Homo sapiens: one gene and its partners. The protein of the gene in region 2 purifies or fractionates together with the protein of the main gene of each other region. This does not show direct contact. Each region holds a gene or a part of one and is shown on either strand. Other genes may lie near its edges.

What was found.
Region 1: the proteins of SUCO (region 2) and PREP purify together in Homo sapiens (affinity purification with mass spectrometry; one large-scale study listed by BioGRID and IntAct). This does not show direct contact.
Region 3: the proteins of SUCO (region 2) and ELOVL5 purify together in Homo sapiens (affinity purification with mass spectrometry; one large-scale study listed by BioGRID and IntAct). This does not show direct contact.
Region 4: the proteins of SUCO (region 2) and TIMM23 purify together in Homo sapiens (affinity purification with mass spectrometry; one large-scale study listed by BioGRID and IntAct). This does not show direct contact.
Region 5: the proteins of SUCO (region 2) and TAPT1 purify together in Homo sapiens (affinity purification with mass spectrometry; one large-scale study listed by BioGRID and IntAct). This does not show direct contact.
Region 6: the proteins of SUCO (region 2) and NIPBL purify together in Homo sapiens (affinity purification with mass spectrometry; one large-scale study listed by BioGRID and IntAct). This does not show direct contact.
Region 7: the proteins of SUCO (region 2) and ISG20L2 purify together in Homo sapiens (affinity purification with mass spectrometry; one large-scale study listed by BioGRID and IntAct). This does not show direct contact.

The regions. Positions count from the first base shown.
Region 1 is NC_000006.12:105,375,583-105,379,082, reverse strand, and holds part of PREP (prolyl endopeptidase), read left to right. Parts: intron 1-1,563; coding exon 1,564-1,697; intron 1,698-2,827; coding exon 2,828-2,958; intron 2,959-3,500. UniProt on the Homo sapiens protein: Cleaves peptide bonds on the C-terminal side of prolyl residues within peptides that are up to approximately 30 amino acids long.
Region 2 is NC_000001.11:172,606,150-172,609,241, forward strand, and holds part of SUCO (SUN domain-containing ossification factor isoform 1 precursor), read left to right. Parts: intron 1-2,597; coding exon 2,598-2,653; intron 2,654-3,092. UniProt on the Homo sapiens protein: Required for bone modeling during late embryogenesis. Regulates type I collagen synthesis in osteoblasts during their postnatal maturation.
Region 3 is NC_000006.12:53,346,151-53,350,240, reverse strand, and holds the start of ELOVL5 (very long chain fatty acid elongase 5), read left to right. Parts: upstream 1-1,290; 5' UTR 1,291-1,424; exon of another isoform or gene 1,425-1,891; intron 1,892-4,090. UniProt on the Homo sapiens protein: Catalyzes the first and rate-limiting reaction of the four reactions that constitute the long-chain fatty acids elongation cycle.
Region 4 is NC_000010.11:45,996,489-45,999,988, forward strand, and holds part of TIMM23 (mitochondrial import inner membrane translocase subunit Tim23), read left to right. Parts: intron 1-3,500. UniProt on the Homo sapiens protein: Essential component of the TIM23 complex, a complex that mediates the translocation of transit peptide-containing proteins across the mitochondrial inner membrane.
Region 5 is NC_000004.12:16,177,972-16,181,471, reverse strand, and holds part of TAPT1 (transmembrane anterior posterior transformation protein 1 homolog), read left to right. Parts: intron 1-1,814; coding exon 1,815-1,895; intron 1,896-1,902; exon of another isoform or gene 1,903-2,492; intron 2,493-3,500. UniProt on the Homo sapiens protein: Plays a role in primary cilia formation. May act as a downstream effector of HOXC8 possibly by transducing or transmitting extracellular information required for axial skeletal patterning during development. May be involved in cartilage and bone development.
Region 6 is NC_000005.10:36,883,269-36,886,768, forward strand, and holds part of NIPBL (nipped-B-like protein), read left to right. Parts: intron 1-3,500. UniProt on the Homo sapiens protein: Plays an important role in the loading of the cohesin complex on to DNA. Forms a heterodimeric complex (also known as cohesin loading complex) with MAU2/SCC4 which mediates the loading of the cohesin complex onto chromatin.
Region 7 is NC_000001.11:156,723,581-156,725,766, reverse strand, and holds part of ISG20L2 (interferon-stimulated 20 kDa exonuclease-like 2), read left to right. Parts: exon of another isoform or gene 1-1,202; coding exon of another isoform or gene 1,203-1,304; intron 1,305-1,418; coding exon 1,419-1,619; intron 1,620-2,186. UniProt on the Homo sapiens protein: 3'-> 5'-exoribonuclease involved in ribosome biogenesis in the processing of the 12S pre-rRNA. Displays a strong specificity for a 3'-end containing a free hydroxyl group.

The DNA of each region.
Region 1 (3,500 bases), on a different chromosome or scaffold from region 2:
CTGGTCCTCTTGCAAAAATGTTAATTACTGTATTCATACTTTACATCCCTTGTCTCTTGTTTTTAAATGCATTGTAATCAATGAGCTTTGGAACAGTTTGTCTCACCACAAAATCATGGTTCTGCAGAGTGGGATTGGTGGTTTTTGTAGGGGAACCCAAAGCATTGTTGCACATTTGAAGACCATTGTGAGCTTGGATGGGCCCTTAGAGTTTGATGATATATCCAAAAGTGAACTCTGATAATAATGCATTTTTCCCTGCCATTCAAAGTATATTATGGTCTTAATTTCCTGAAGTTTTTCCCTGATGATTTACTTATTTATAGACATCTGATGAAATCTTCTATTGAATTTAAAGCTGATACAATGTTCTTGTTTCATTTCTTGCTAATAGCCAGATGTGAATTACTAGTAGCCAAGTTTTTATGGTATTGTCAACTTTTTAACTGGTTAGTTACAAATAGGGTGTGCTTGGATACAACTCATCTTTTGTAAAAGCCCCTTTTCCTGCCTTCACTACCAGTATTTCCTGATGGCCATCTCTTGCCTTTCTTATAAACCATGTTGCTGATATTCTTCTGCAATGCCACTTGTTTCAGGTGTTTTTTGTTTTTGTGTGTGTTTTAAGACAGTCTCCCTGTGTCGCCCAGGCTGGAGTGCAGTGGCACGATCTTGGCTCACTGCAACCTCTGCCTCCCGGATTCAAGCGATTTTTGTGCCTCAGCCACCCTGAGTAGCTGGAATTACAGGCACCCACCACCACGCCTGACAAATTTTTGTATTTTTAGTAGAGACAGGGTTTCGCCATGCTGGCCAGGGTGGTCTCGATCTTCTGGCCTCAAGTGATCCACCCGCCTCAGCCTTCCAAAGTTCTGGGATTACAGGCATGAGTCACTGCACCTGGCCTCCAATGTTTTTTCAATGTTCTTTGGTTGCAAATTTTAGCAAAGTTCTCTGATTGAAATTAACATGGTAGTAGGTCTTACAAAGCCAAAATCGATAAAATAGCGCCTGGGTATCCCTAACTTTCTCTCTTTGACTCTGACTTCTCTTGGGATGGCCAGGTGCTGAATAAGAATCCCGGAACCATGGCACTGCGTAAATGCAGATTATTGGCAGTGTGTGATCTGAGCTACAGTATAGTGTGTTTGTTAGGAGCGTGGATCTGGGAGCCAACTCTGCCATCTGCCACTTCCTAGCTGTATGATGTCGGGCAACTTTTTAACCACTCCAAACCTCAGTTTCCCAATCTGTAAAGTTGGCCTAATAAAAGGACCTTCTCCATAGGATTATTGTGAGTTCTAAATAAGTTAATACTTGCCCTGTAAGCATTAGCTGAGTTAGTACCATGTAAGCATTGGTTGTTACTACATATTAATCAGTCACTTGGCAGGAGCTGGGCAGGTATGAAGAAGAGTAAGGAGGTGAGAGAGGCTGGTAATGAGAGAGAAGAGGCACTGGCTAAGAGACAAAGTGTGCTTTTTCTGATACATATTAGTGGATAATATTTCACATGGAAAATTTTATATTTAACTTGCTTTGTCCATTTTAATTTCTCCACAGGCCTTTGTGGAGGCCCAGAATAAGATTACTGTGCCATTTCTTGAGCAGTGTCCCATCAGAGGTTTATACAAAGAGAGAATGACTGAACTATATGATTATCCCAAGTATAGTTGCCACTTCAAGAAAGGAAAACGGTGAGACTGCTTTTACTGAATTTCCTTTTTATTTTCAAAGTAAATGCTTTCTTAAATTGTAAAATACAAATTCCAGATAACTTGTCCTTGTATAAGATTAATTCATTATAAGGAATTAATTTCTATGCCTGAATATGAGAGTAATATTTTTGATCTATTAGGTATTGTCCAAATTGTTAAAATAATAGTTAAGAAATTTAGTAGGGATAGGTCATATAAAGAAATCTAGATTATAGGAAATCGTCGTCTTATCGGTAGTAATTGGTGAGATAGGATGATTCATAGACAGCAGTGGAGGTTTGTTTGCCTCCGAAGTTAATTATCTTTGATGTATACTACTTGGAAACATTTAATTCTGTGTTTTTCTTCTGTCAAAGAATGGTGAAATGGGTGAATTCACTTCTCTTGTTCCTGTCCCGTTAACACCCACTTACAGATGTTTTCTTGATCTTTTATTAAATCTCTTTGGAGCCACTATCACACATTTACTTTAGACTTTCTTCAGCCCTCTGCCATTCTTACAGAGATCGGCAACGTACAGTCTGCCTACCAAACCCTGGCTGCCTACCTATTTTTATAAATAAGGTCTGATTGGGACACAGCCATGCTTATCGGTTTACGTATTGTCCATAGCTGCTTTTGTGCTGCAGCTACAGGCCTGAGTATTATAGTGACAGACTGTATGGCTCACAGAGCTTGAAATATTTGCAGTCTTGCCCTTTACAGAGAAAGTGTACTGACCTTCCACCCTAGCAGCCTTGCTAGGGAAAAGAACCAGAATTTTATTTTAGAAAAGTCTGCTTTCTTCTTCATTTAAAAGAAAAAGTTACTGCTTTATTTGAATATCAATTTTTATTTTAACACATAAAATGGTCTTTATTTGCCTCTACTCGGCTAATGTGCAGGATTACAATACAGGATTTGAATATGGAAGCAATTCTGTTAACAAGCTCTAGGTAGAGAGAAATGATGGAACCTTTCACCCATGTCCCCACGTCCCTGCGATGGCCAGATTACAGTGGTACCTTTTTAGGTCTTTGGTTTTGTTTTGGTTTTTGCTTGTGTGTGTTTGGTTTTACTCCACAAATAGAAAACTCCACAGCTGAATAAAGACCATCTCTGTTCCCCAGGTATTTTTATTTTTACAATACAGGTTTGCAGAACCAGCGAGTATTATATGTACAGGATTCCTTAGAGGGTGAGGCCAGAGTGTTCCTGGACCCCAACATACTGTCTGACGATGGCACAGTGGCACTCCGAGGTAAGTGCTACACAGAGAGGCCCGTGGAACTCCTAAGACCCTCACTTGGAGCTCTGAAGTTAGTGCAGTTGCTTTACCTCTGAAATGCCAGGCAGGGTGTGGACCATATTGTGGAACAGATGCACATACAATATCAGGAAAGCTAATTTTTGCACAGTATATTTAGAATACATGAATAGTCACATTCCTCTTTTCCACTCTGATGGCATGAAGCAGAACTGGAAAATAATTAACACTGGACCCAAATTAGCTTCTAGGGCTTCTGGAATCTTGACATATCATCATCATTTCCTCCAACATCCCTGAGACCTACCTGTGATTAGAAAAAAATAAGTCGTCTTCTATAAGAAGTTTAAGCTGTACAAAGATTATTCCAACTATAATATTAAACAGGAAAGAATGTTTATCAGATCAGTTTCCCTCTTGGGAAGGAGGCGATTAGAGTTTTAAAAATCTAGTTAATTGTCAACATGTTAGAATTACAAGTAAAAACACACAAATCTTGTAGAAATTGAACAGCTGGGTATCCTGTTCCCTGAAGA
Region 2 (3,092 bases):
ATAATTTTGTTAGATAATTATTTAGAAATTTTGCATCTATATGAATAAGATTGGCATGTAATATTTTCTCATGTTGGATTTTGGTATGTAAGGTTTATAAAAATTAGATGGGCAGGGGTATCCCTTTTAATTTTTTTTTTTTTTCCCCTTCCATGCTTTCATTAAGATTTTTTATTGGGGAGGAAGTAAATATTCCCTTTTACTGCCATTATGTTGGAAGTTGTGTACTGGTTCTGTTCTTTTACTAGTTACCCTAGAAGTCAGAAGTATTAATGTTTGCCAAAGTCTCAAGTTCATCAATACTTGTATCTTCTCCTTAACAATACATAGATCTTAAAACTCTTATTTGTCCCAAGCCTTATTTATGTTACTGTTCTTGTATATTTTAATTCTATTCTTTCTGCTTAATTTTAACTCAACAAGGTATTTCTTTTTACACTTAATGTTCATTTAAATTTACCCCACGTTTACTAATGTTTTTATTCTTCAGAGCTTTCATTTGTCATTAGTTAAAACTGAAATATTCTCCTCTTCTTTTTCTTTATCATTTTGAGATTCGTGAGGCTCTTTGGAGCTCTGGATTTGTAGGTTTCTTTTACTTGTTATTGAGAAATTCTCAACCATTATTTTTTCCTCCCAGATATTCCCTGTGCCCCAGTCTCTTTTAGATTCTCATATTTAATTAAACATATTACTTCTCCGTATATCTTCCCTGTCTTGTAAACATTCCACCTTTTTGACTTTTTATGCTGTATTTTGGATGATATCTTCTGATGTGTTTCCAGGCCAGCAGTCTTACTGTTGCAAATTTATTCATTGGGTTTTCAATTTCAGTTATTTTTTCCATTTCCAGGAGTTCTTTTTGTATTTTTTAAAAATCCAGGTCTGTATTTTCCTTGTTATATGTTTCCTGCAGATATTTTCAAGCTTATTTTCTAGACATATTAAGCATAATTATCTTTATAGTTTGTGTTTGATAAATCTAATATCTTAAATTTTTGTGAGTCTGTTCATTGTCTTTGTAAGCTCTTACTCAGGGTATGTTGTGTCTTTGTGTGCTACTTTTTCTCTTTGAAAAGTTATTTGTAGGGATAATTTGAGGCCTAGAATATAGGTTCTTATTTGAGAGGGAATTTGTGTGTGTGTTACATTCATGTAATACCTTACATTCATGACTTGTGGTTTGTTGGGCCACCAGGTGATGATAATTTGGACTGCAAGTTCATGCATGGCTTCATTCTTTACCTGAGAATATAGTCCTTTGGAGTCTCAGTTTACTGTACACAGGGAGATGGTATCTTATTACACTAAACTTTGGGTGGGCCCTAGGACCTGATTTCTGATCCATTCCCTTATGATACCATCAGAACCAAAGTTCATATATTCTTGTGTTGGCAAATGTTTTCAGGGCAAAAATGACTTTTGTCTTCTACTTGACTGTCCGGGTTCCCACTTTTCTTTCAGTTTTAGCCTAGGGATTACTTTCTTGGCAGCTTTTCAATGCTTTTAGTGATTTTTTTTAAAAAAAACAAACTATCATTACTTAGTTGCTTTCATTGTAGAGGTTGATCTGAATAACATAACTGTTTCTAGAAATAGACATCATTATTAAAGAAAGTAAATTAAGATTAGTAATCTGGTAGAAATGACTGTTTAGAGGGATGTTTTGATATTTTCATATATTTGATGACTTTCTCAATAAATCTCTGAAATATAATGTAAAAAATTATAATTGGTTGAATTGTATTAATAAATTTCCCAAATGTGTAGAGCTTCTGTAGTGAATTTACTATGTGTAAGCTTTTGTCTCTGTCAGACCTTAAATTGTTTATTTTTAGTGGATTGAATAGGACTAAAGTCTCATAGCCTTTTAAAAATGTGTGTCTATTTTGTCAGTGTGGGGGTGGGGTTGGGATATATCTTGAAGCTGCTTAGAGTAATGAAACCTTAGAAACTTTGGGCTAAAACTAATAAATCTAATTTACTCACTATGCCAGAAGTGTTCATTCATTATTGCTTAGTGATATATATTGCATGTTCAAGCTGTTTTTAGATTGGGATTTCATAGTTTTGATCATAGTAATAAACAGAGAAAAATATCTTGGATCTCTTTTTGTGTTTATTTCTCTAACTGGCTTCCAAACACGGTCACGACTACTTGTTGCACATTGTTAATCTACCTTTGTGACACAGTTTAGAGGCTAGTCTTTTAGGGAAGTATTCAAATGATCTGTAGGTTTGGTGTGAGCTTACCCAGGAATGTTTCTTTTCTTATCAGGTAAAAGAGTGAGGCTGGGCCCAAAGAAAGATCGTTATTGTATTGGTTGATAACCAGCTACTAGTTAACAACTTAAGGAAGTATAGTTATTTGAAGACGACCAGTCAAGCATAGGAATCATATCATCTTCCACCTTGCCTCTTTTTGCTTACTAATTTAAAATGCATAAATATATAGTTAACCTGATACAAATTCATTGGTTCTATTACTAGAGGATAATAAGGAATGAATGATTTGTCTTATTTTAGTGTTTAATTATAGCAAATCCACCAAATCCACTTTACATTTTACATCTGCTTTTTTTTTTTTTTACTTACAGTAGACCCAAATGATTTGTACATTGTAGAACCCCTCAAGTTTTCTCCAGAAAAGAAGGTAATTGTTTATTTCTTTTTAAGTTTATTGCTATGTTTTGTGATAATAAATGAAGAAAAGAGGTTGAAAGGTTTAAGGTAATTACCTTTAAGTAGTCCTTAACTGAATGTTTATTTTCTATCATGATAATGTTGTAAATAAATATTAACAGGGGTCAGCAAGCTGTGACCCACAGGCCATATGGGCCATGAGCCAGATAGGTTTTCTCATTTTTAAAGAGTGATAAAACAGAACAGCATGCAAGAGAGAAAATGTGTGACCTGCAAAGCCTAAAATATTTACTGTCTGACCCTTCACAAAAAAAATTTGTTGATCCTTGGATGATTGTCATTATTTATTACCGAATGCATGCCAAGCACAGAGCATGCACCGTTCCTCTAATCCTCACCACAACCTGAAGATGATGTTATCCTCATTTTTTTTTTTAATAAAAAAACAG
Region 3 (4,090 bases), on a different chromosome or scaffold from region 2:
CAATGGCCCACTGCCTGGAACACAGCTGGCACGTGATAAGCATTACATTGTAAATATGTAAAAGAATAAATTTGCCGGCCAGGCTCGGTGACTCACGTCTGTAATCCCAGCACTTTGGCAAGCTGAGGCGAGCGGATTACCTGAGGTCAGGAGTTCGAGACCAGCCTGGCCAACATGGCGAAACCTCATCTCTACTAAAAATACAAAAATTAGTCGGGTGTGGTGGCGCGTGCCTGTAATTCCAGCTACTTGGGAGGCTGAGGCAGGAGAATCGCTTGAACCCGGAAGGTGGAGGTTGCAGTGAGCTGAGATCGCGCCACTGCACTCCAGCCTGGGCAACAGAGCGAGACTCTGTCTCAAAAAAGAAAAAAAAAGAAAAAAAAGAATAAATTTGCCTACATTAAATAGCCGACTGTTAGGTGGATGCACATAGAGGAGTAAGAATACAGCAAGAGGGGCACACGAAGAAAGGCTAAATCTCTGGGGTTTGAATGGGGAAACAGTAGGATACAAAGCTAATGAAGGTCTTTAATTATCCAAATATCAGTGAAAAACAGCAAGGATCTTCCGTTTATGCCCTGAACCCCCTTTGTCTTAAGTGCTTAAATATGCTTAGCTGAAAAGACACTGATTCCATCTTTCCTCATTTAACAATCCTTTAGAATAATTTCTAGAGTAGAAATGGAGTTGATAGTGGCTTCCAAAGAAAAATCAGAATCCCTAAGAAAAATACACGGTAAATCCTTTGCAAGGGAGTTATGGTTACAACAGTTTTGAGTCGTTTTGTTCTTGTTCCTTTATCTTGTTCAACTGCAGACCTTCACTCCGGCGGTCTCCGTGGGCATTTAACCCTTTCAGCTTTAACGATGAAGTGGATCCCCTTCAGCATGACATAACTCATAGAGGAGACCGTAACGAGGGTGGGCTTCTGCCACCCAAATGCGGCCACAGACTCCTGCCACGCCTGGCAGTAAAAAAACCAGAGTTCAGGGCATCGACAACTTCACCGGGGCTATTGCGCAGGCTCTGCGTTCCACGCAGGCTTATTAGGAAGAAAGGGGAAAAAAATTTCCCAGAGACACGTGGAACCGAGGGGCCAACCCCGGCCTAGGCTCTCCACCGCATCGGATTCTGGAATTTACGATCACGAAAGTTCTATTGTCCCGCGATTGGCTCCCGGGCCGCATGACATCATAGCGCTTGATTCATCCTTCGGGTCCCGATTGGCTGGCCGCGCCATTGTGACGTCACGGTCAGCCCACGTTCTGATTGTAGATAGCCGGCGCCTTCCTCTTCCCATCGCGCGGGTCCTAGCCACCGGTGTCTCCTTCTACATCCGCCTCTGCGCCGGCTGCCACCCGCGCTCCCTCCGCCGCCGCCGCCTTGCTGCTGCTCAAAGCTGCTGCCGCCCCTTGGGCTAAAAGGTAAAGCCGTCAGCTCCGGGAAACTTCGTCGGGGGCCGCCGCTCGGCCATGACACCCGCGCGAGCGCGCGGCCGGGAAGCGGTCAGAGAGAACTGCCGTTAGGTCTCGGACCTGGTGCCGAGAAAGAGCTGCCGGGGCAACCCGCGCTCCGCCCGCGGCCTCCAGCTCCGCCGGCTCCGGGGTACAGCCCGGCTCCTCGGGCGCGGGGAAAGGGGTGCGGGTGCGGGCGCGGGCGGCTCGCCCCACGCCGAGGCTGAGGCAGGGCGCTCGGGAGCGTTCTCTGTGCTGCGGTCCCACCTGTGCGCGCTGACAGGCGCCGCGGGGCACGACACCGTGCCCACACCAGACGCGGAGGGATGGATCTGTCCGCCTGGGTCCTCCCGCCCTGCGGGCCGGAGCGCGCGGCGGGAGAGCCGGGGGAGCGCTCTCGGAGGGAGCGCGCTTTCTTTGGAGTCGGCGAAACCCGGGTGAGTTCGAAGAGCCTGTGCGAGGGTCTGCGGGCACCGGGCGCCGCTGGGGGGACTCTCCGGCCTTTCCTTTTTGTCCTGTTCTCTCCGCTTCCGTTAACCCTGCGGACCTTCCGTCCGCCCCTCGGAGGGAAGCCTGCTAGCTCGGGACCGCTTCAGTTTTTATTGAAACCAGACAACGGCAGCCCTTGGTACTCAGGGAGGGATGAGGCTGGTGGGAAAGCGAGAGGGCGGGGACTCGGGGGCGACCGGGGCGGCCCTTTCTGGGAGCCTGATCCCTGGAGAGGCGGGAGCGGTTGGCTGCGAGGGAGGCGCGCGGCGGGGGGGCGGTTGTGCTCTGCGCCGGGGGAGCTAGAGTGTGTGTTGTCTTGCGAGTTGTAAGGAAAAGTGCCTTTTTACTGTTTCCACGCCGGTAAGACTCTCCCACCCCACCACCTCGGGTCGACGGAGCAATGCCTAGAGCAAGAGTTGTTCTTGCTGAACTGCGTCTTGCAACCGTTCCGTGTTCTTGCACTTGGCGGTTCCCCCCGCCCCATCCACAATTGTGAATTAAGCTCCTTGATTGCAAATTTGGAGAATGCATTTGGCCAGTTATGCAAAGTGGCGGAGGTGGCGGGGTCGGGGGCGGGGGGTCTCTTTCGGAAGAATCCAGTGCATGGTTTATTAGCTAGACTGAGGAACCGAGAGGTGCTAGATGGGATTTGTGGGGAGCGAGCAGCCTAATTTGTTTTAAATAGCGGGACCCGTGGCAGGAAGTGCTTCATAGAATTGTACGGAAGAGCTGATGTTGCTTGTCAGGTTTTGTAACTCATTCTCCTAACCGCTTGGCAGATAACCTGTTGGTCTGCACTTGTTTTGCTTGCACGTCTCAGCCAAAAGCATTTCGTGCAGAATCTACAGATAGAAACAGGCGGTTTTGCATTAGATGGCCGTGGACAAACATTTTAGCCTTCCATCTGTGATTGGGGACAAGTGGGTTACTTTTCTGGTAGCTCAGACACTGCCTGGGATTCTCCAGGAAAGCTCTGCACTTGAAAGGGAAATGTTACTCATTTTCCTTTTAGATTTTTACCCTAGATTCTAACTTCTTATTGCCAGGAACTTTTTCTGTACTGTTTCTCTTTTTGCATTTTCGTTTCTATTTCTAATTGAAGACAAAGGGGAAATTTTTATTGATAGTTACAGATAGGTAATGTTACAGAATGTAGTACAGAACTTTGCTGAAAAGCGACAGTAGAAGGCTTACTAAAATTTGATGTTTTTCAAGAAAAATATCTTGTAACTTCAGATATTGACCTCACCTCCTTGACTCAATTTCCTTGTCTATACATGGGGATTTTATGTGGCAGGATCATTGTGGATTTCAAGAGATAATGCAAATGAGAGCCCAGCATTGAGTCTGCCAAATGGTGGTTTGAAAATGTTTCCTTCCCATTCCCTGAAATCAACAGCTTCTTCTTGGTTACAGACCTTAATTTTTGGATGTTCTGTTTGCAAGAATCTTTTTTTCCACTACCTCTTCTTTTGCTCCCTGCATAATGGTTGCTTGTCTTCCTGCTTCTAGAGGTGAGCATCCATCCTTGGGTGTCTTATTTCCAGCTTGAATTACACAAATCAAAGCAAAACTGTTTACTTTTCTTGAGGGTAACTTTGGTGCCTAGGTGGGTAGTTAGTGTGAAGAGAGAGTTTTACCTCTTGCTTTCCTGGCTACATTCTTCTCTCCTAAAAGATTTTGTAATTTTTTTTTTTAATTCCTCCTCTTTGCCTACCAGCTCTTCTGTTATCAAAAGGCTAATCCTCTCATTAGTTACCTGTAAATAAGTCTTTCCTTGAATGCTTTCTGTGTCAGGTACTTATTAATACGCACATGTACATAAACGGTTGCTTTCCACACGTAATTCTTATAACACCTCTGTGAGGTTTTATCCCCCAGTTGTTTTTTAAGAATTGAGGAGCACTATGAAGACACATGCACACGTATGTTTATTGCAGCACCATTTACAATAGCAAAGACTTGGAACCAACTCAAATGCCCATCAATGATAGACTGGATAAAGAAAATGTGGCACATATACACCATGGAATACTATGCAGCCATAAAAAAGATGAGTTCGTGTCTTTTGCAGGGACATGGATGAAGCTGGAAACCATCATCCTCAGCAGACTAACACAGGAACAGAAAACCAAACACTGCATATT
Region 4 (3,500 bases), on a different chromosome or scaffold from region 2:
GTGGTGCATTTTAAATGAAACAAGTTCCATTAAGTGCTTATTGCTGAAGGTATAATTCAGTGAATGTTCTTTCCTTTTCTTAGAGCAGAGTTTGGTATTTTATTTTCACCTAAGCCATTTTGGTTCAGTTCTTAAGGCTTTGATTATTTTTTTAAGTTGAATGGTGTTTAGTGTGCCCATGTTCATAACAGCATATTATTCACAACAGCCATACAGGCTGGGTGTGGTAGCTCATGTCTATAATCCCAGCACTTTGGGAAGCCAATGTGGGCAGATTGAGTCCAGGAGTGTAAGGGCAATATGGTGAAACCCTGTCTATACAAAAAATTAGCCGGGCTTGGTGGTGGGCACCTGTAGTCCCAATTACTGGGAAGGCTGAGATGGGAGAATCACCTGAGCCCAGGAGGTCAAAGCTGCAGTGTGCCTTCATTGTGCCACTGCACTTTAGCCTGGACGACAGAGTGAGACCCTGTGTCAAACAAAAAAAAAAAAAAAAAGATAGATTCTAAGAGGCCAAGGCAGGCAAATGGGCAGATTGCTTGAGCCCAGGAATTGGAGACTAGCCTGGACAACATAGCTACTAAAAATACAAAAAATGAGCTAAGCATGGTGGTACATGCTACTCCCGAGGCTGAGGTGGGAAGATCACTTGAGCTTGGGGAGGTCAAGGCTGCAGTGAGCCGTGATCATGCCACTGCACTCCAGCCTAGGTGACCCTGTCTCCAAAAAAGAAAAATGTGGTATATACATAGAATAGAATATTATTCTGCCTTTAAAAAGGAAATTCTGACAGATGGTAAGACATGGATGAACTCTGAGTACATTATGCTAAATAGGCCATCTATAAAAAAAAATGGTGTGATTCTACTAATGTGAGGTACTTAGAATAGTCAGATTCATGTGAGGTACTTAGAATAGTCAGATTCATACAGAAAAAAAGTAGAATGGAAGACGGCTGGGATGGGGTGTAGTTATTGCTAAATGGGCAGAGAGTTTCAGTTTTGCAAGATGAAAAGAGTCCTCTGAAGATAGATGTTGGTACACAGAGCACCGTGGCTCACGCCTGTAGTCTCAACACTTTGGGAGGCTGAGGCAGGAGGATTGTTTGAGCCCAGGAGTTCAAGACCACTCTAGGTAATATAGGGAGACCTCATCTCTACAAAAAATTTAGCCCGGTATGGTGGTGCATGATTGTAGTCCTACCTACTTAGGAGGTTGTTGTGGGAGGATCACTTGAGCTCAGAAGGTCGAGGCTGCAGTGAGCCTTTACCAAACCACTGCACTCCAGCCTGGGCGACAGAGCAAGACCCTGTCTCAGAAGAAAAAATAAAGGAAAAGTAGATGTTGGTAATAGCACAGCCGTGTGAATGTACTTAATGCCTCTGAAATGTACACTTAAAAATGGTTAAGGTGGTAAAATTTATGTTACATGTATTGTACCATAATTCTTAAAAGAATAAAGTTTTTTTAAAATTTTAAGACAGCTGCTGACAGTCCTCAACAATGGCATTTAGTAGTCATGTTAGTATGTAGGTAAGGCTGTTCCTATAGAACAGGAGCCACCAACTCCTGCTGGCCAGCTGCCTGTTTATTTGCTGTGAGAAGGCTAAGAATGTGTTTTACGTTTTTTAGTTACGTTTTAAATGGTTATATAAGTACCTACATAACAATAGCCTTTGACCCTCAAAGCCCAAAATGTTTACTATCTGGCCCTTTTAAAAAAGATACATGTTAATCTGTGCTTTAAAGTCATTGTCATTTGAATGCATTAGTTCTGCCACTAATCAACCCTATATCCCACAAACAAGGCACTTAAATATTCTGGGCCTCATTTTCTCATGTATAGAAGAGGTGGTGCTTGCCTATCGCTTTGGAAGAACTACATAAGGATCCCAAAATACAGGAGGTAAAACTGAAACACAAGTCATATTTGCTTTGCTTTATAGAGATTGACCATTGGCCTTATTTGGTTACTCTGTTCAAAGCAAGTACCTTTGCTTATCAACTTCCTGTGCTTAGTTGTGTAGAGTTGTTTGAGTAAAGAAACCCTAGAGACCCTTAAACTTGCAAACACATCAACCAATTGGGAAACCCTGGAATTAACGGAAACAGTTACAATTAGAACATGGCTGGTATGTGGTAAAAGGCCACCCTTGAGTAAAGATGCTATGTGATAAGTACAAACACCAATGTTTAGTGTCTTGTTGGAGTTGATTTTTTTTCTCTCTGGCTTTTAAGAAGTAACTTCATCGATTTGAACTAAGTTTTTGATTCATTTGGCAAGAAAATAGAAAGCTTTTGGGGGAGTAAATTATTTAATATGTTACTGGTGTCCCAAATATCTTTTTTTTTTTTTTTTTTTGAGACAGAGTCTTGCTGTATCGCCGAGGCTAGAGTGCAGTGATGCAATCTTTGCTCACTGCAACCTCCACCCACCAGGTTCAAGCAATTCTTTTGCTTCAGCCTCCCACATAGCTGGGATTACAGGTGCCTGCCACCACACCTGGCTAATTTGTGTATATTTAATAGAGATGGGGTTTCACCATGTTGGCCAGGCTGGTCTTGAACTCCTGACCTCAAGTGATTTGCCCACCTTGGCCTTCCAAAGTGCTGGGATTACAGGCCGTGAGCCACCATGCCAGGCCTTTTTAAAATTTTTTTTTATTTTTTGAGACCAGGTCTGGCTTTGTTGCCCAGGCTGAAGTACAGTGGCACGATCTTGGCTCACTGCAACCTCCACCTCCTAGGCTCAAGCAATCCTCTCACCTCATCCTCCCAAATATCTGGGACTACAGATGCATGCCACCATGCCTAGCTAATTCTTTACATTTTTTTGTACAGATGGGTATCGGGGAACCTGCCCCGATAGTCGCGTACATTCTTTTCTATTTTCCTTAAGCGTCAGCCAGCTTGAGAAATAAAGGGACAGGGTACAAAAGAGAGAAATTTTAAAGCTGGGCATCCGGGGGAGACATCACATGTCGGTAGGTTCCATGATGCCCCACAAGCCGCAAAAACCAGCAAGTTTTTATTAGGGATTTTCAAAAGAGGAGGGAGTGTGCGAATAGGTGTGGGTCAGAGACATCAAGTACTTCACAAGGTAATAGAATATCACAAGGCAAATGGAGGCAGGGCGAGATCATAGGACTACAGGACCAGGGCGAAATTAAAATTGCTAATGAAGTTTCGGGCACCATTGTCATTGATAACATCTTATCAGGAGACAAGGTTTTGAGAGCAACCGGTCTGACCAAAATTTATTAGGCAGGAATTTCCTCTTCCTAATAAGCCTGGGAGCGCTATGGGAGACTGGGGTGTATTTCACCCCTACAGTCTACAGACCATAAAAGATGGCCACACCCAGGGGGGCCATCTATAGACCTATACCCCCAGGCGCGTATTCTCTTTCCCAGGGATGTTCCTTGCTGAGAAAAAGAATTCAGCGATATTTCTCCCATTTGCTTTTGAAGGAAGAACAGTATGGCTCTGTTCCACCTGGC
Region 5 (3,500 bases), on a different chromosome or scaffold from region 2:
TGTCCAAAAATCAAATACAATTAATTTAAATTCGATGGTAGTTTTGCTTTGTTAGAGTTTACAAAAGTTACTTTGGCTCATTTCAGATAGTGTTTTAAATTTCTCAAGGCCATTTATTTTCAGATAATTCTGTAATGAAGCAAGTCTATATTATACATGTTTGGGAAGTATCAAAAATAAATACATTTCATTGTTAAATTCATTTATGGAAATTAGAAAGGACTTAGCACACATATAGGTACAGCTTGGTGAATAATTCTACAGAATTCCAATTAAAGATACATTGGTAAATTTAACCCCATGAATTAAGATCCACAGTTAGCTGTAGTAACAAAGAATATATTTTGTGTCAGACTTTGATGGAACTTATTCTAGGGCAGACTTTTCTTAGTTTCCTTTAACCTGTATCCTCTTTTGAAGTCACAGAATAAATTAAACATGTGATCTAGACAAATCAAAACAGGTGCACCTGAAAATCCACATGGCCTTGCTCCGGAGGTGCCCTGCCTCCTAAAGAGGCATCTCAGTGCTTGGTACCTTGAGACTCACTGTGCCCTGAGCTCACACTCATAATAAATAGTGCTTCAGCTTTGGAAATAGGAAGTGAGTAGTGCCCACTGGGCTTTGAGGGAGTGAAGGCACAGCTCAGACCCATCACTAATAAGGAGGTGAGCTACCCTGAAAAAGAAGGTACCAGCAACTGACTGGAAGAGCTTAAGGATGTAGGGAAGGTACAGAGAATAAAGGCCAACTCGCTTACAGAGAATAAGGTTTTGCTGTGGAATAAAAGTTTGTATCATGTTGCTAGAGAATAATGGGGAAAGGTGGAAGTAAAAAAAGAGAAGCAAAGACAGTCCCATGAAGTACATCAGGATGAAATTGAAATTCAGAGCGCTTACAGGAGGTGCGCCATGGCTGAATGATATGGGTGAGGCTTGCATTTACTGAGGCAGTGGGAAAGTAGGGAAATGACAGCAGACTGTAAAAAAGCTTTTGAGATGGGTTGTTATATGAGTGATTGTTTCTAGTCACAGCCCCCACTATTGCATCGGCACACATACATGGGTGTGCCACTCTTAACTGCAGACAAATTTATTTTGTCCCATTTCTTGGTTACACGGTATCTTAGACTATGAGAAAGTTAACAGCTTAAAAAGTGAAATGTGTACACTGGCCTTTAGCAAGAATTCAGTGATTTGCTTTTATTAAATTCCTTCCACCTAATCTCAGCACACAGTTATTAGTTTATGGTAAATATTATGAAGCCCAATTTGGGGTTATTTTACCTCAAGTTCTACATACACCCCCGGAAATGCTATTGTAGTAGCAGGATTCTCTCAGCTAAAGGACTCATCAGTTCAGTAATTGTGTACTATTTACCAGATTGGAAATAGTCTGGGATTTTATACAAGGATTTTGTTACCCAAAGTCTTTCATTTTACTCTTTGCTTCTATTTTTTCTTCCGTAAAATGGAAACAGTTGTCATATGTCCCCAAAGCCCATTGGAGGAACCTAATGACCTCATCTGAGCAGTTTGATGGTTTGAATACTTTTTGAAGTTTATAGAAAACTGGAATTTCCATACTAGAATTATGTTGGCAAAAGAAGTCAATGGCTTACCATGGTAGCACCAGCCTATATATACACACACACACACACACACACACATATATATATATATAAAGTTGTATATTTATAGACATTTATACATCGTCTAATAATTTCATCATGTTCTGGCTAAAATAATTATATATGTACTTTATTATGTTGTTTATATACACTACAGTACTTATGTTGATTTTTTTTCTTTTAGATATTAAGGAACGATTCACAAATTATGTGCTTTTACTGATAGTGTGTCTAAGAAACATGGAACAGTTTTCTTGGAATCCAGGTAACTCACTCTTAACAAAACAGTGTCTTATAATTTTACTTCTAAGCCAAAATCATTCTTTTACATGGAATAAAATGAATATTGCAGAAAACTCCAAAAGACTTTGGCTGTTTTACTGTTTGGGTATTGGTGAAACAATCATCTGTCACTTAATGACCTTCAGTCAACAATAGACCACATATACGATGGTGGTCCCATAAGATTCTAATGGACCTGAAAAATTCCTGTCACCTGGTCTCCTAGTGTCCTTTTCTGTGTTTAGACATGTTTAGATACACTTACCATTGTGTCACAGTTTGCCTGCAGTATTCAGTATGGTAACGTGCTGTACAGGTTTTGTAGCCTAGGAGCAATAGGTTATACCATATAGTCTGGGTGTGTGGTTATACCATCTAGGTTTGTGTAAGTACCCTCTATGATGTTAACACAGTGACAAAATTGGCTAGCAACACATTTCTCAGAATGTATCCCTGTTGCTGAGCGACACATGACTGTACCTGTTTCAGTAGAATGGATTGGGTATGTTTTCTGTGGTGTAGTGGGATGCTGTCATTTTCCATAAACTCCTCAGTGTCTCTGGAGCTGTACACTCAGTAGGTGAGTGCGCCCTGTTATGCCTGGCAGCTCTGAGCCTTTCGGTTTTTAACTGTAGTGTACTTTAGTTACCTAAATCCAGAAAGATTGTTTTCATCTTAGGGGTTAACCAGGAGAACCTTTGCTCTTCCCTAACATTATCTTTTACCCATTGATTAGCATTTTAAATAGGGATAAATTAAATATAAAGTAAGGTGGAAATTTTGCTACTTAGGTGCGTCTCTGAATTCAGGCTGACAGGAAATTGTCAAGACTCCATGAATTTTCATTATCCATTCAGTTAGCAGACATTCACTGAGCATATGCTAGTTTCTAGGCACAAGGACAGGCACTGTGGCAATGTAAAAAATACTACGACATTTGTAGGACTTAACAGGCTAATTAAGGGGAAGTGGGTAATTATAATGCTAAGTGAGCTAAGTGGGAAATGATCAATTTCTCAGGTATCTCAAGTAATTTAGAGTTTTTGTTTGAATGTCTGACGTTTTTGTTGGAATCTCATTCTTAAAGGATGCAACCATGTTTTGGATTTCATTTATTACTCCCAGTATTATATATGTTATAGGCATTTATTAACTTCTTAATTTATTTTAATTCATTGGTAATTTTCAAGTAACTGTGAAAAATCAAAAACATATAAAATGAGAGATACGGTCTTGGAGATACATTTTCAGAAGTTTTTTTCATAGAGAAACCATAAGATTAAATGACATCTCACAGCAGCTCGAGCAGGCTACCTGGCTTGTGGTGGAAAAGCCTCTTCCTCCACACACACAGCTAGATTCTTTGTGTACCCAAATTTGTTTTAGTGAATGGTGGTATATTTCTTTATAACTAAGTCACCTAACAGGGTGTCCATGAAGGGCAGAGGGGGTATGTGTCACTGGTTCCGGTAGAGTACATGTAAGATCAGCAATTCCCAAAGCTGAGTGGTTAAACCAAAAGACAAATAGTCTTTATGCCTCCTAGACAGCTGGATATTTGAAGTCATATTCTCATTTATACTGTGAC
Region 6 (3,500 bases), on a different chromosome or scaffold from region 2:
ATACCAATTTCCTTTGAGTTCTCTTTTGTACATATTTCTCCTTTGACAGAAAAGAAAAACTTTTTCAGAAATTAGCAATATTAATTTATTAAAATAATTATATATATACTTTTGCCTCTCCTGAGAAATGCAGAAGCTGTGACATAATTTTAAAATGCTGGATTTCCTTTTGTTAGAATTAACATATTTGGGTCACTTATGCAGGTGAAATGCACAGTTATTTTTATATGAGCACTATTGAAAAAATACTATTCTAGATACATTAAAACTAACAAATGTCTAAAACACTAATTATTAAATTCTGACTATACTTTTAAAATATTAGTCTTTATGATTGATATTTATGATATTTAATTTGGTATTTGTAAAGCAAAAATGTCCTTTAATCCTGGTGAGGAAATACATTACAGAGTTTTCTCAACACTGCTACTTGTCAACCCTTTCAGTATTTTAAAACCTGCCTTTAGTTGTCTTTATTTGAATCAGATTGTGGGTTGCCAGTTTTGAGCCAAAGACATCGATCGTCTGAGTGTATGCTCTATGTAATTCAGTTTTTTTTTTTGGTAATGACCAAGTTGAAGTTTTACATGGTTTTAAGTTGGGCATAACTCCATTTATTATTTATTTATTTTTTATTAATACTATTCTTTAAAATTGATGCACATGAAAAAATTTCTTCCTAGGGTTCTGCGTATACCTCAGAAAGCTCTAAGATTGAAAGCTGAAATGTCATGACCTGAAAACTACTGATTCTTTCCCCTTTAAGAAAAGAATTTGGAAACTAGTGTTTATTCCATAACGTTACCTTCAAGTTATCCTGAAAGACACACATGACATACGCTTTTATTTAACTCTACTAATCTTTTTACTATTTTCTCTTTCCCTTTTTTTATGTATCTCTTCCTTTCACTATCAATGTCCATTTCATCTCCCCCAAAGCAAATTTTTACATACTGTGGCTAATATAGGTATTTGTTGTTAATGTGGTTGATCTTGTAATGTGTTACTTTCCCTGATGAAACCCAGAGCAGTTTCAGAGGCCTCAAATTCTGAGATCTTCCTAAGTTCAAAATAGATTGCTGGTAGAAAAGCATTGACATTAACCATGAAAATATATATTTGTGTATTGTTCCCACTTCTATAGACATATATTACTTTTCAAAATGTCAGCTCAAGGACCAGAAATTTTTTCTGAGGAGAAAGAGAAAGCATTGCCTTTACAAAAGTTTCCCTGATCATTCCATTTCATAGCATTTGTACAGTTTTTTACTTGTATCTCTTGATAAAATAATTTGTTCCTATATTCGTCAGCCATACTCAACCATCAGCTCTGTGAAAGCAAAGAGATTTTGTATTATCTTCATCTGTATGTCTATAACATCATCACAGTGCTGCTCCTGTTTTAGGTATTCAATATATATTTGTTGTTTAGTTAGAATTGAGCCATGTGGTATTTCTTAAAGGTATGTTTTTAAATCTAAGATTAGTGAATGGCAAGTACATTTCTCTTAATTTCAAAATATAATTTTCTTAGGTAGAGCTGTGTCCTTGAGGGCTTCTTGCTTTGGGGGTAGGAATATTTTATTTACATATATCCCTAACAATACATACATAACTTTATAAAGATAAAGAAAAATTTAAAGTTCCTTTTTAAGCTGTTAATGAGGATCGTGAAGTACAGGAAGGGTTTTTTGTTCTGATTCCTTAGGCAGTATAATTGGAGTAAGATACTGGAGTATTGCAAGAAGTGAAATATCTAAATACTTTCTTGTTTTAATCTTTGGATTTATTGCAGTTTTAATTTTTTTTTTGCCAATTTAAGTATTATATATAATCAGATAAGTTAAATAATGAGAAATACGTTACAGCACATAAAAAATGCTATTCAGGGTCAGCAAAGCCTGAGTCCTGTCCTCTCGCTCTCCTCCCTGGACAGCATGAGCTTCACCACTTGCTCCACCTTCTCCACCAACTACTGGTTCCTGGGCTCTGTCCAGCCACCCAGCTATGGTGCCTGACTGGTCAGCAGTGCAGCCAGCGTCTATGCAGGCGCCAGGGGCTCTGGTTCGCGGATCTCCGTGTCCTGTTCCACCAGCTTCCGCGGCGGCTTGGGGTCCAGGGGCCTGGCCAAGTGGATGGCCCAGGGTCTGGCAGGAATGGGAGGCATCCAGAACAAGGAGACCCTCCAAAGCCTGAACAACCACCTGGCCTCCTACCTGGACAGAGTGAGGAGCCTAGAGACCAAGAACCAGAGACTGGAGAGCAACACCCGGGAGCACCTGGAGAAGAAGGGACCCCAGGTCAGAGACTGGGGCCATTACTTCAAGACCATCGAGGATCTGAGGGCTCAGATCTTTGCAAATACTGTGGACAATGCCTGCATTGTTCTGCAGATTGACAATGCCTACCTTGCTGCTGATGGCTTTAGAGTCAAGTGTGAGACAGAGCTGGCCATGTGCCAGTCTGTAGAGAACGACATCCGTGGGCTCTGCAAGGTCATTGATGACACCAGTGTCACTTGGCTGTAGCTAGAGACAGACATCGAGGCTCTCAGGGAGGAGCTGCTCTTAATGAAGGAGAACCACGAAGAGGAAGTAAAAGGCCTACAAGCCCAGCTCACCAGCTCTGGGTTGACCGTGAAGGTAGATGCTCCCAAATCTCAGGACCTCGCCAAGATCATGGCAGACATACAGGCCCAATACGACGAGCTAGCTCAGAAGAACCAAGAGGAGCTAGACAAGTACTGGTCTCAGCAGATTGAGGAGAGCACCACAGTGGTCACCACTCAGTCCGCGCAGGTCGGAGCTGCTGAGATGACACTCACGGAGCTGAGACATACGGTCCAGTCCTTGGAGATCCATCTGGACTTGATAAGAAATCTGAAGGCCAGCTTCTGGAGAACAGCCTGAGGGAGGTGGAGACCTGCTATGCCCTGCAGGTAGAGCAGCTCAACAGAATCCTGCTGCACCTGGAGTCAGAGCTGGCACAGACCCAGGCAGAGGGGCAGCACCAGGCCCAGGAGTACGAGACCATGCTGAACATCAAGGTCAAGCTGGAGGCTGAGAGCGCCACCTGCCACCGCCTGCTTGAAGATGGCAAGAACTTCAGTCTTGATGATGCCCTGGACAGCAGCAACTCCATGCAAACTATCCAAAAGACCACCACCCGCTGGATAGTGGATGGCAGAGTGGTGTCTGAGACCAGTGACACCAAAGTTCTGAGACATTAAGTCAGCAGAAGCAGGGTACCCTTTGGGGAGCAGGAGGCCCATAAAATGTTCAGAGGTCATTGGGGGAAAATAGGCTATTCAGTTAAAATAGTTATCTGATGACTGAAATTTTTTTAATATGTCAGGTGTATTGAGGTATAATTTATACAGTAAAACTCAGTCTTTTGGGTGTGCAGTTTGATGAGTTTTGACAAACATACACAGTCTTAAAACCACCACCACAATCAGAATATTTCCATTACCCCCAAAAGTTCCCATGTATCCCTTTGTA
Region 7 (2,186 bases), about 16 Mb from region 2:
GAAGATGGGACGGGTCTGAGACAGCAAATCTGCCCAGCTTTGATGAGGGCTATATGTCGAGGTTAATAAGAAGTGAAGGTGGTGGTGGACAGTAAGTAGGTGAAGTCAGGAGTAACGAAATATCTAGTTCACGGGACTACGTCTGGTTTTCATCATAAAGCACTTCCCCAGTGCCAAGCTGGGGTTATGAGACTAAGGTATGTCCAGATGAGCCTAGCCCCTTCAGAGGGGGTCCCTTTGGGAGGCTATGCAGGACTGTCACTTTTGTTGAAAACCTGTTTGGAACCTCATTTGGGAATGGCCTTCAGAGCCTGTGGTGTGTTCTTCGGTTGTCCTCATTGGTAGCATGTCCTCCTACTTCAAGAGCCTGAAATGGCTAGGTGTGGTGACATGTGTCTGTAATCCCAGCTACTCAGGAGTTTGAGGTGAGAGCATTGCTTGAGCCCAGGAGTTTGAGGCCAGCCAACCTGGGAAAAATAGCAAGACCTCATCTCTTTTAAAAAATAAGTTACCTGAAGGCCAGGTGTGGTGGCTCACACCTGTAATCCCAGCACTTTGGGAGCCTGAAGCGGGCAGATCACAAGATCAGGAGTTCAAGACCAGCCTGGCCCATATGGTGAAACTCCGTCTCTACTAAAAATACAAAACTTAGCCAGGCATGGTGGCAGGTGCCAGTAGTCCCAGCTACTTGGGAGGCTGAGGCAGGAGAAACGCTTGAACCCGGGAGGCGGAGGTTGTAGTGAGCCAAGATCGCGCCAGTACACTCCAGCCTGGGCAACAGAGCAAGACTCCATCTCAAAAAAAAAAAACAGTTTCCTGAAATATTGAGAAGTTATTTTTATTTTACTTGGTTCCAAAACTAGTGTGAATAAGGTTGCTTCTGCAACTTTAGTTTATATGTGATTCTTAATTTTTTACGGTTTGTAGACTCTGAGAATTTGATGAAAGCCACAGATTCTCTTCCTCTAGTACCCATACACATCTAATTGCATGTAATTTTGGGCTTTTGTTAGCCTCCCTGGAGCCCGGGTCCCAGCCATGTGTCTAAGGCCAACATAATGGTAATAGTTAAAGGACTTCATGTAGCAAGCCAGAACTGAACTAAATACATGGACATCTCAAACATGAGTGTCATTTAGGACTGAAGGCAAATTAATGTCATGGGGTGGAGATCAATAAGAAGGTAAGGAGCCACTGGCAGTATGAGTCCAAACAGGGTATACCATGGAAATCACCTGTGGAAGAGGAAGGTGGATTCCAGAAGAAAGAAAACTTGTGGGAGTGAGCATTTCAAGGATGGAGAGGTAGGCAGTTGGTGAAAGAATCCAGAAGGGATTGATGGTCATGTTGGGCTTTCAGAATGCAGGGGTTCCACTTCAGTCTTCCTTCTCACCACTCTCTTCCCACACTTCTTCCAGATCTTGAAGATACTCACAGGGAAGATAGTGGTGGGGCATGCCATCCACAACGACTTCAAAGCCCTTCAGTACTTTCACCCCAAGTCCCTCACCCGTGACACCTCCCATATCCCCCCCCTCAACCGGAAGGCTGACTGCCCGGAGAATGCCACCATGTCTCTGAAGCATCTCACCAAGAAGCTGCTAAACCGGGATATCCAGGTAGCATCTCCCCACATCCCCCGCCCCCATCTTGGACATGGCTCTCGTTGATGCCCCTAGCCAGACTCTGATCTCAGAAGTCCTGTGGTTGTAGAGATCCAGGTGGGCTGCTGTGATGGGAAGAGCTCCATCTGTACACAGGATAATAATTCCTGTTGTCTACCTCATAGAATGTTTCAAAGTGTGCTTTGGAAAAGGGAAAAAGTCCTAAGTAGATATAAAACCCTAACTAAGGAAGAAAGCAGGTAGCAGTGGTGGTCCAAGAGACCGTGTAGTGGATGCAAGGACCGCTCGTATTTTACACGCTATATTTCAGCAAAGGGTGGCCCATCTGGCAGGAAGATGGGGACATATGTCACATATAGAGCAGTTAAGGAACTAGGGAAAGTGGAAGACTCAGAAGACCTGTCTTTGACCTGGTATGTTCTATCTCTACAGAACCTAATATGGCTTATACATACTGCCACAGAAAGGACTGAGGTAGACAGTGGCAAAGACTTCCTAGGAGTTGAACCCCTGAAATTACATAAGGAGTAGGACCCCACCAGAATTCTGTCTTTGTAGGCT